Linked DNA regions of Homo sapiens: region 2 is linked to region 1. Evidence: fine-mapped expression QTL. A gene starts in region 1. The other region holds a variant in brackets. All regions are shown on one strand. Distances are from middle to middle.

Region 1 (5,385 bases):
AGTGATCCGCCTGCCTTAGCCTCCCAAAGTGCTGGGATTACATGAGCCATTGTGCCTGGCCTCTTTTGCTTTTTAATTGACAATAATAATTGTATATATTTGTGGGGTAGTATGTGATGTTTTAACACATGTATACATTGAGCAAATCAGGCTAATTAACATATCTATCACCTCACATATTTATCATTTCTTTGTGGTGAGAACATTTGAAATCCACTCTTATTAATTTTGAAATATACATTACGTGTCATCACCTTGTTACGTACTTATTTTTCATTAGTGCATTTTAAAGTCATTATACAAGGAATGCATGATAGTTGTTTATTTTTAAATGCATGAATTATATGGATTGTTATCTGCATCTAATGACTCAGAACAAATTCAAAGATTCTAATAATGCAAAGAAGTTTCATGCTGCACAGATTTAAAGATGTTATACTACAAAACTAATAATTTGTCAACTTAACACATACACACTCCATTAGGAACTCTTCTGTAATATTCTCCTCTAAAAGCTGTTCAACAATATGTAGAGCTTTTCTCTCAAATTCAATCTTCTTTCTCACAGCTGCTTCTAGTTCAGCTTTCCTAAAATTTGAAAGAGAAACTTAATCTACTTAAAAGCTTCATGTCCAACATTCCATGTTTTAAAATACAATACTAACCTAACTCACTATTTTGCCACTTAAATTTAAATATATTTAAAAAATTTTTTGAATAAAAATATTTATTTCTTTTTAATTGTAGAGACAAGGTCTCACTATGTTGCTCAAACTGGTCTCGAGCTCCTGGCCTCAAGCAACACTCCCACCTCAGCCTCCCAAAGTGCTGGGATCACCGGCATAAGCCACCACATCCGGCCAAATTTCTGTTTTCTAATGCTGTTACTTTTGATCCAATACTTTTCAAAAAGGAAACAAGCTACTTTTTGCACTGCACATACATAAGTCTTTATATACTCTTTGTATGGTTAATGTCTACTTAGCACGCAGGTCTCAGCATAAGGCTTTCGCTGAAAACTCACAGCCAACCTCCCTGCCACCCACCTCCAACTAAATTAGACTTCGTTATTCCTTCTCGTAACATCACAGTCTTTTCCTTCATAGTGCTTATCACAATTTGTAATTATGTATTTGTTTATGTTAATTAACTAATTAATTTATTATTATTTATTCCTCTGTTCCACTAGGCAAGAACTGTGTCTATTCTGTTCACCATATCTTCAGAGCCTAACACAGGTCCGACATATCTTATACTCAATAAATAATTTTTGAAAGAATGAGTAAATTAAGACCAAAGCCAATATAAGATTAGTGAGTCTTCACAAAATAAAAATCATAGCTACATATGCTTTTAATCCCCTTCACATTCTACTCCTCTTCTAGAAACTCTGTGTGATATGTGGTAATATCTTGCCTTTTTAGAACCAGAACTAGTACAAGACAGCTTTTTAATGAAAATCTGGACTTGATGTAACAAAGAACAGAAAAGGTTTCTTGGAGTGACAGCGAAACTTGGAGAGTGAGTCTCTGGCATATAAAGCAATAAAAGGAGAGTGTACCTGAAGCGGTGAAAAACAAACACCTTCTACAGACACTCATTCCTTCACTAGCAGTCTGAGTGCTTAGTTTGGTTTTCTTAAAGCCTGGAGTAGAGGAATGTAACAGTCTATGTGAGAATTTATAGGCCTTCCCAGATCTTTCCCTTCCCTCTCATGATAATTTTCTCTAAAAAAAAAAAGGTAACCATTATTGTTTTAAAATTGGTACAAGTAATACAAGATAAGTAGATATGCCAATGTAGTTGTCCATGTAGCTGTCATACCTTTTAGAAGCATCTTCTTGTTTCAAAGTACTTGTCTGTTTAGTACCTACAATAAAAATACAGTCATGTGCTACATAATGACATTTCCGTAAACGACGGACAGCATACAGACAGCGGTCTCATAAGATTAAAATACTGTATTTTTACTGTACCTTTTCTATGTTTAGATATACAGTTGCCTACAGTACTTAGTACAGTAACATGCTGTGCAGGTTTGTAGCCTGGGAGCAATAGGCTGTACCATATAGCCTAGTGTGTAAGTAGGCTGTACCATCTAGGTTTGTGTAAGTGCACTCGATGATGGTCACACAAGGATGAAATCGACTAACAACTTATTTCTCAAAATGCATCCCCGCAGTTAAGCTACACATGGTGGCAGTAGGTCAGGTCTACACAAACACATTAGGTACAAGATAGATTCCTACACAAATAACAAACTGTAGACCACCTTTTCTTCTTTTCCACATATTTTATGTCCAATCGTGTGTAAATCAAAATGAAATAGGAAGGGAGAGCAATTTGTTTTTGCAAATTGATTACTGTCTAATTTTTCTTGGTTAAAATGTATCTCTTTGGGGATTGAATTTTCTTCTGTATCATAGTTGCTTAATTAACCACTCCTGAAAATCTGAGATCTGGGTACTTTTAGGGGAAACCTCTCTCCGTCTGCCAAACGTCCTCTCTGGGGGAAGAGGGGAGTCCGGCACCTTAAAGAACTGGGCACCCAAGCAATCTGGAAAGGAGGACCGGTCCTAGGTTCAAGGCCAGCTGCCAACGCTGCCCTAGTCACTTGCCCCGAAACCCGGGGACCCCAGGCCTGGGTTCCCGGGGCCTCCACTGTCCTTTGTCTCAGAGGCTGGGGCCACAGTCCGCGTGAGGGAAATCTTGGAACACTGGCGTAAAGGGGTGAGGGGCGGCCAGGAAATCTTTCCCAGGAGGTGCGGACGGCGGTGGGAAGCTTTCGGCCTACTCTACCTGGGAGAACCCCTCCCCTGAAGCAGCCTTTCAGGAGCGCCCGCGCGCTGCGGTCTATAACTCGAGATCGGGGCCCAGCTTTCAGGGTCCAAAAGTGGGAAGAGATCCTTGCTCCTACCTGCGGCTTTTCGAGAGCAGCGGGGAGCCCCGGCCTTGCGGCCGGCAGAAGACGGCCCAGCGAAGTCCGCCATGGGGGAGAGTAGTCTGCCGGACGGGGACACGCTCCGGCGTCTCGCCCCGAGGCCCCGCCTCCCTACGCGTAGCGCGGGGCGGGGCCAGAAGAGCGGGCTAAGACGCCGGAGGAGGTGGCGGCGGCTGGGAGAGGCGAGGGTTCTGGCCGGTAAGTGGAGTTGTGGAGAGGTTCAGGGTGGCCAGGGCTCGCGGTTGGCCGTGAGCCGCGGCGGACTTGGTGCTGCGGGCCGACTAGGCCACGCGAGGTGGTGGAGCCTGCCCACCTAGGCGAGCAGGAATCGGAAGACATGGCTTCCTCTGATGCAGCCCGCACGCGCGCTGGGGTGTTCACTCGCCTTCCAGCGCGCTGCCCTGAGGACCGGGCTGACTCGCGCCCCTACTGAGGGCTTGGGGCCGAGCCTTGCCGCCAGGAGAAGCGATGGTCTCCTCCTGAAGGCCGCCGTTGTCTTGTCTCCGTGTGATACAGTGATTTCACTAGCTGGATTGATCACTTTGGGGACTGCAACTCCTAGAGAGAAATGGAATGGAGGGCATCTGAATCTTCACCCCCTATAGATAAGCTTGTGTTGCACCCCAATTTTTGTGAGGTGAGACATTAAAAATGAAAAATCCCCTGATGATTAGAATTTTGATTTCAGGTCCACCTTTTGGAAATTTTTTTTCAGAAAAGAAGTGCTTTGCTTTTTAAAAGCCCTTTAGTTCGTATATGCCTCGCCTCTTGGGAGTGCTCGAGAGGTTTTTTTTGTTTTTTTTTCCTTCAAAGTAGCTTTCAAAACTATGCTCCTAGAAAACTTAAAACATGCAATAAGGGCTTCTAAAAAAACACTTTATTTTCTTAGGCAAACATACTAAGATTCAGTAATAACATTTCAACTTTAAAACTTTACATTTTCTCCTAGCATGCTATTGGACCAAAAAACACAACAACAAAAACTTTCCATTTTCTTTATTGTATTTACTAATAATTTATCACACTGAAACATAACTTTTGAATACTTAAGTGTAATATCACGGATAGTTAACAGTGTGTTTTGTATTTGTAGATTTTAGCATCGAAACTAGGAGAAATAAGAATGGCTGTAGAGGAACTTCAGTCTATAATAAAGAGATGTGTAAGTATTAATTTTTGTAAAATTAAATACCTTTCAAAATATGGGAAGGGCACAGATTGTTTTTAATTATATTTGTGGTCACTCAAATTGTTTATCTTCTTTAATCCTTGCTTTTTTTGACCTGTAAAGAGCATGAGTGGGGGAGGCAGATTGGATTATTTCTCCAGGTGACATACTTATCTAAATAACCTTTTACATTTTAATCCTGATCCTTTTCATAGATTTCACTGGTACAGTAGATTTCAAGGTCACTTATTAAAGTATTTATTAGGGTAATCCTAATTTTGATACGTGTGTTATTTACGTTACATTTATCTAGAATTTAAACAGATTTCCTTTTTTCATAGATAAATCAAGAAGTTATTGTATTTAATTTTTATTTGCATATACTTTTTTTTGTTTGTTTTTTGGGTTTTTTTTTTTTTTGCCAGCAAATCCTAGAAGAGCAAGACTTTAAAGAAGAGGATTTTGGCCTATTTCAGTTAGCTGGGCAAAGATGCATAGAAGAAGGGCACACAGACCAGCTATTAGAAATTATTCAAAATGAAAAGAATAAGGTGCGTACAATCTTGGTGTTTACTTTTCAGTCTTGGGAAGAGAATAATCACATGATGCTATTCATCCAGTCATTTATCCATCAAACATTTAAGAATCTACTTAAATTTTCACAGTAGGGAACTGAAAACAAAAAAAGAATTAGAAATATTTAGGCCAGGCGCAGTGGCTCACGTTCGTAATCACAGCGTTATGGGAGGCCAAGGCAGGCAGATCACTTGAGCCCAGGAGTTTGAGACCAGCCTGGGCAACAGAGTAAGACCCTGTCTCAGAAAAAAAAAAAAAAAAAAGAAAAGAAACAGTCATATACTTGAAGGTTTTTACCATCTGGTCAAACATAAACATGTAAACAACTAACAATAATGAGGCAAAATAAATAATTGCTATAGTTGAAGTAAAGAGTTTTTAGAAGAAACAGAATTACTTCTGGTTTAGGGAGTCCAAAAATGGTGTTTGAGTCATTAATTTACAATGAGAAATATACATATCAAGCAGGCTAAATATTCATTTTGGGTGATCAGCCCATTCTCCTCCAGCCAAATGTGTATGGAAAACCAAATTTTAATTAAAACAGTATTTTATGTGCATAGAATCAGAACAGGAGGAAAACGATATGTCATTATACTAGCCAGTATCATCCAGTTACAATGGTTTGAGAAATCATCCTCCACAATGGAAAAGGATCTTATTTGTGGATCAGGAATAACTTTTTCCTGGGACACTGTGT
Region 2 (5,385 bases), 230 kb after region 1:
CAGAACTGCATGGAAATTATCTCAAAATAATATTTGATTTTTTTTTTCTTTTCCTTTCCTTCCTCATCTCCTTACTTTTCTCCCATTCTTCTCTTCTTTCTTTCTACCTTCTGAAAGTATCAGGAAACTGACGAAGTTAAAGCTTTAGGTGCCCCACTTCCATAAGCCCCTTCTAGGGTTCTAGTAGCATCCCTAAAAATGTGTTTACTTGGTTATGTTTTTGTAAAGTTGGCAAACTTTGGTCAAATGTTACCTCATATCTGGTGCTACTGAGTAGCTACAACCATCTTTAAGATTCAGTCACAGTGAAACTAAGTAGGGGATTCAGTGATTAGGGCTGGTGGAGTATGTTTATCAGTTCACATTCACTTCTATGTCTAGATAGGTTGTTGCTCCCTGTCTGGGTATGGGAATGGTTTCCAGGAATACTTTGCTGATTCATCCTGCATGGTGACATGAAGGGGTAGGGCCCAAGGGTCACATCACTATGTGAAGATGTCACATAGTGACAGGTATTGGAAATAAATGTGTAAATAAGTAGAGGCTTCAATTCTCATTGATGCCTTATTGGAACAAAAATAATATTTTCAGTAATGCAGAACATGTTAATTATAAACACATTTTTTTGTGTTTTGATTAAAGTCATACAGAATGAAATTTGTCAAAATTCCTATATTTATGACCTATGTTTATGATATTTTTACAGGTTTTCAGAAATTTTAATCTGTTGTGATTTCTCATTCTAAATAATCACTTCTATACTTTAAAAAGGCAAGCAGGGAACAGGCATACCATATATAATTGTTGCAATGTATTCCCCACACTATATCTTCCTAATATTTATTTTATCTTGAAAAATAAGAAAATGTGGCCAGGCACGGTGGCTCACGCCTGTAATCCCAGCACTTTGGGAGGCCGAGGAGGGTGGATCACCTGAGGTCGGGAGTTCAAGACCAACCCGACCAACATGGAGAAATCCCGTCTCTACTAAAAATATAAAATTAGCCGGGTGTGGTGGCTCATGCCTGTAATCCCAGGAGTCTTGGGAAGCTGAGGCAGGAGAATCCCTCGAACCTGGGAGGCAGAGGATGCAGTGAGCCAAGACTGCACCATTACACTCCAGCCTGGGCAACAAGAAAGAAACTCTGCTTCAAAAATAATAATAATAAATAAGAAAAATAAGAAAATTGAGGCTACTTTTCAAATGACTAAAGAGGTATTTATATAGCTCTTTTCTTTTTTTGGAGGAAATGCAAATGGTAATTTAATGTTTTTATTTACTGTCAGTGTAGCTCTTTTTTTTTTTTTTCTTCTTTTTTGAGATAGGATCTCTGTCGCTCAAGCTGATACAGTGGTGCAATATCTGTTCACTGCAACATCTGCCCCCCGGGCTCAAGTGATCCTCCCATCTCAGCCTCCTGCGTAGCTGGGACTACAGGTGCACGCCACCACACTAGGCTAATTTTGTATTTTGTTTAGAGGTGGGGTTTTGCCATGTTGCCTGGGCTGGTCTCAAACTCCTGGTCTCAAGCGATTCTTCCACCTCAGCCTCCCAAAGTGTTGGAATTATAGGCGTGAGCCACCATGCTTGCCCAAGTGTAGCTCTTAATGTGATATTTTTTTCTGCAACAGTGAGGGACAGGTGATAGGCTTTAATGTTCCTCTGGCCTTATTTTAGCATTAAATACAATAAAGGCACTAACTAGAACCCTGCTGGGTGAACAAGGTTTATGACTAGATCACTTGTTCTTCTACATTTAGGTCACATTAAAACAAATGCTATCTTAAGAAAGAAGAAAAATAGATACTATTAAATCTAACTGAAATATTCCTCAAGCATATTTTAAATATCATAATTGTCTATGCCTCTTAGAGTGAAAACTATTGAGTTTTTCCTCAAAGAGTAATTCTTACTTCAATCATCATTTCTACCTAGAAGATACTTTCACTGTTTTCAGGGCTAACTTGTAACATTTGAATACAGTGATTAAAACTGTACTTTTTGGGGTAATGAATATATATAGGCTGCCTGGAGGTCTAGGTGTGAATTAAATAAGTTGGGATATGCTGGATGCTTCAGGGCAAATTTCTTAAATCTCTCATATGAAATGTACACTGATTTCTGTCCAGCTATTTCCTGAAGAGCCTGGAAACATCAAGATCTGGCACTCCAAAAGCTGCCTAAAGTATAGCAGCGAACTCCTGTT[CTGTTA/A]TTAAACCATCCGCATCAAGATCAAAAAGCTTAAAGGACATTTGCAGACTCTTTTCAGACCTATTACATACTCTCTGAAGTCTATGTTGCCATCATTATTCCTGCCGAAGTGGGCAGGGGGTTGTCTCAAGGGCTCTGAAATTGGGAGTTTTAAATAACTTGAAAATTCTTCAATTCCTGTCTTCCCTCCTTTTGAGGCAACTGCAATTGCAGCATATTCATCCAAATGCTGATGAATGTTATCCCTGTCTAACTTCAACTTCTGGCTAATGTTTGTAAATTCCACCAAACCAGCTTCTACGGGTAGTTGAAGGTTACCTGCGGAGATCATCACTCTGCAGCCTTCGTAAGTGTGCCCTGTCCCAGGCACCCCTAGAGCATTTGCCATGTTGATGTGTGCTGTATTGGCAAAAAGGATGGGGTCTTTTTTTTCTTCATCATTTGGGATATAAACAGGCATAAACTCAACTTCTACCCTGGTGAAGAGTTGACTGAGTGTCAACATACAGGCCTGTAAGGCTGTGAATCCCTGCCAGGTCCAGATTGCCATGTCCAGGGTGTTTGGGTACCTGAGCAGCACTGGCTACACAGGAACACCTGGACAGAAGGCCCCTGGTTTAAAAGTGACTAGACGGGAGCGATTGATGCACACACCTTCTAGGAAAATCAGAATCTGTGGCCACTTCTTTCCAAATGTCACTCACTTCAGGATTTCATCCTTAGTATTCTTCCTGGAATGGGAGTCTTCTCAAATCACAAGCACCAGCTGTGTTGACAGTAGGAATTTCCCAGCCAATGGGATCTGCACATTTTGACTTGCAGAGACCACTGAGGGTAACCCTGCCACCACACAGGGGATTGAGTCAAAGAAAGTGGACCGTGGTGCTGTAACGAAGATAGGGGCCTTGTCTTGGGTTGCCTTTTTCCCTTTCACTTTAGCCAGGAACCCAAGTAAAAAGAAAGCCACCTGAAGCATGAGCTTGAGTACTGGTTTCACCAGTTTTTTTTCTCCAACTCTTGGCAGGGTTGCAGGATTTGAGCAGGATAGCCAAAGGTGGAAAGCATGGCCACTGGCCAGATGAAGAGGAAGGCGATGCAGGACATTCGTACCCACGAGGATGATGCAGGTCCAGCACCATGCACAGAGGCGTGTCTGCTGAGGATACAAGGACTTGATTAGCTCCTGCGTGATCCCAGACTCCTTCGCCTCCAACTCAGAGTCTGTGGATGCAGAGCCGTGAAACCGACTTAGCAGACCCAGGCTGTGTGTAGCCTGGATTTGGGGGCAGCCTTTGACATGCACCCTTCCCCACATCCAACTGCTTTTTCTGTTTGCACATAATTAGAACTGTTAGAGGAAATTGTAGGTTAATAGAAAATGCTGCATTACCTTTAAAATCAGAAAAATCAAAGATGGTAAATGATGTAACAGGAGAATTTGAATCATATCAACAGCACATTCTTTCTTTCTTTTTTTGCAAACATCTTGCTTTTGACATATGCCTAATAAATTATTTTCACATAGCAATTTCTGATGTTAAATTAGGCATATATTATATACTACTAGGGATATATTAATTTGAATAGATGAATATTATTAATAATTACAACTTTTAATTTAGGTGCCATTACCTGTTTTTATTTACTGTGAGCTGCTTTGGCAGCTAGTAAATCAAATTCACTTACTTGCCCTACCAATAGATTTCTACAGAGATAGTAATAACTGTTTATCCTAAGAGGTTTAACTCAAGATGGCACCCTTGAGGCTTTATATCTGTTACAAGTACTTTTCCATATCTATTAAAAATTAGAGTACATTCATTGTAATAGGCCGGAATTGCCCATGGAATGTTTGATTGATAAATTCTTAAAATTAGTCCACATGAACTTGTCAGCTTCCTAAACTGACATAAGTAGCAACAACAACAAATCTTAAAATCACCTTTGTCAGTAACAGGTTTTTATTAAAATAAGTCAGGATTACTTTACTGTGTCAACACGTCCCATTCTTTCCCTTGTTGCTGCCCTTCTGGAGGGATCAAGAGGGAAGCAACAAGTTGGTATGAACCAGGATTTTTCTATACCTTGTGGCATTTGCAACTCTGACAATGCTCTATAGAATATTCCTATGTTTACTAATGGCTAATTTGAATTCCTTTTCCCTCCCAAAATTAAAAGTCAAATTGTAGGTTCCTGAGAGATATGGCCATCTATTGAAACACACCAGATTACTGCTGAAACAGGAAGAGTGGCGTGGATACCACAAGTCTGCTAAATGGTATCTGGTGTAAGTGGGATCATGGGCTTTACCACCAGATGGCTCTAGGTCAGATCCTAGCTCCAGAACTTACACTATGGGCATTGGCAAAGTTACACGTTAAATCACATTTTTACTATTTATAAATTGGTGATACCTACCTTGCATGTTGTTACGAAGCAATGTGTTGTATAGAGAATTGGATTTTTGTTGTAAATACAACTTGCTGTGATACAGTAATGAGAATTCTTAGGGACATTCTCCTTTGTTCTGTCACGATCAGAACTATGCTTAATGAGGGAAGCAATCCTTTCACCAATTTAGGGCTTATTTGTTCTGTGATGTGATTTGGCAGTGTTACTGGTTGCCTCCCATGTTAAAGGGGAACAACCCAAAAGAATGAGTAGTAGTCCCCTGAGTTGGTATTGTTCTCTATTCTGTAACTCTTTTCAACTCTTACTTATAATGTTCATTTCTACTCTTGAACCTTTATTTAATTTGACTGCATTCTATGTATGCGTCTTTTTTTTTTTTTTTTTTTTTTTTTTTTTTTTTTTTTTTGCTCTTGTTGCCCAGGCTGGAATGCAGTGGTGCAATCTTGGCTCACTGCAACCTCTGCCTCCCAGGTTCAAGCAATTCTCCTGCCTCAGCCTCCCAAGTAGCTGGGATTACAGGCATTTGCCACCATCCCCGGCTAATTTTTGTATTTTTGGTAGAGATGAGGTTTCACCATGTTGGCCAGGCTGGTCTCGAACTCCTGACCTCAGGTGATCCACCCATCTCAGCCTCCCAAAGTGCTGGAATTACAAGCATGAGCCACCACACCCAGCCCTTAAGGCTTCTTATGGGAAAGTTCTATGTTACCACCTTATCTTTCTTTTATATTCCCCACCCCCCCGCAGTGCCTAGCAGTGTG

Alleles and levels. Alleles are on the strand shown, and positions count from the first base shown. SD is a standard deviation of normalised expression in the study named.
In carriers of allele CTGTTA in region 2, the expression in testis of the gene that starts at base 3,077 in region 1 tends to be higher than with A alone (moderate effect, 0.43 SD a copy in GTEx).

The links. PIP is the estimated chance that this variant, and not a neighbour inherited with it, causes the effect. A credible set is the group of variants that fine-mapping cannot tell apart.
Region 2: its variant is the best candidate, but not a certain one, in a credible set for the expression of GLMN in testis (GTEx, PIP 0.80).

What each region holds. Positions count from the first base shown.
Region 1 is chr1:92,296,679-92,302,063 of GRCh38, reverse strand. GLMN (glomulin, FKBP associated protein) reads left to right here and starts at 3,077. Exons shown (of 19, transcript NM_053274.3): 1 at 3,077-3,139; 2 at 4,035-4,103; 3 at 4,535-4,660. The coding sequence starts at 4,065. It overlaps RPAP2 (RNA polymerase II associated protein 2), which reads right to left and starts at 3,005. Exons shown (of 13, transcript NM_024813.3): 1 at 2,918-3,005; 2 at 1,825-1,870; 3 at 474-588. The coding sequence starts at 2,990. RefSeq lists enhancers at 2,592-2,821, 3,042-3,511, 3,083-3,979 and a silencer at 3,243-3,580.
Region 2 is chr1:92,064,373-92,069,757 of GRCh38, reverse strand. It overlaps the pseudogene LPCAT2BP. Among named protein-coding and RNA genes, the nearest start is that of SETSIP, 8.3 kb to the left of the region's middle. The variant CTGTTA/A (reference allele first, on the strand shown) is at 2,208.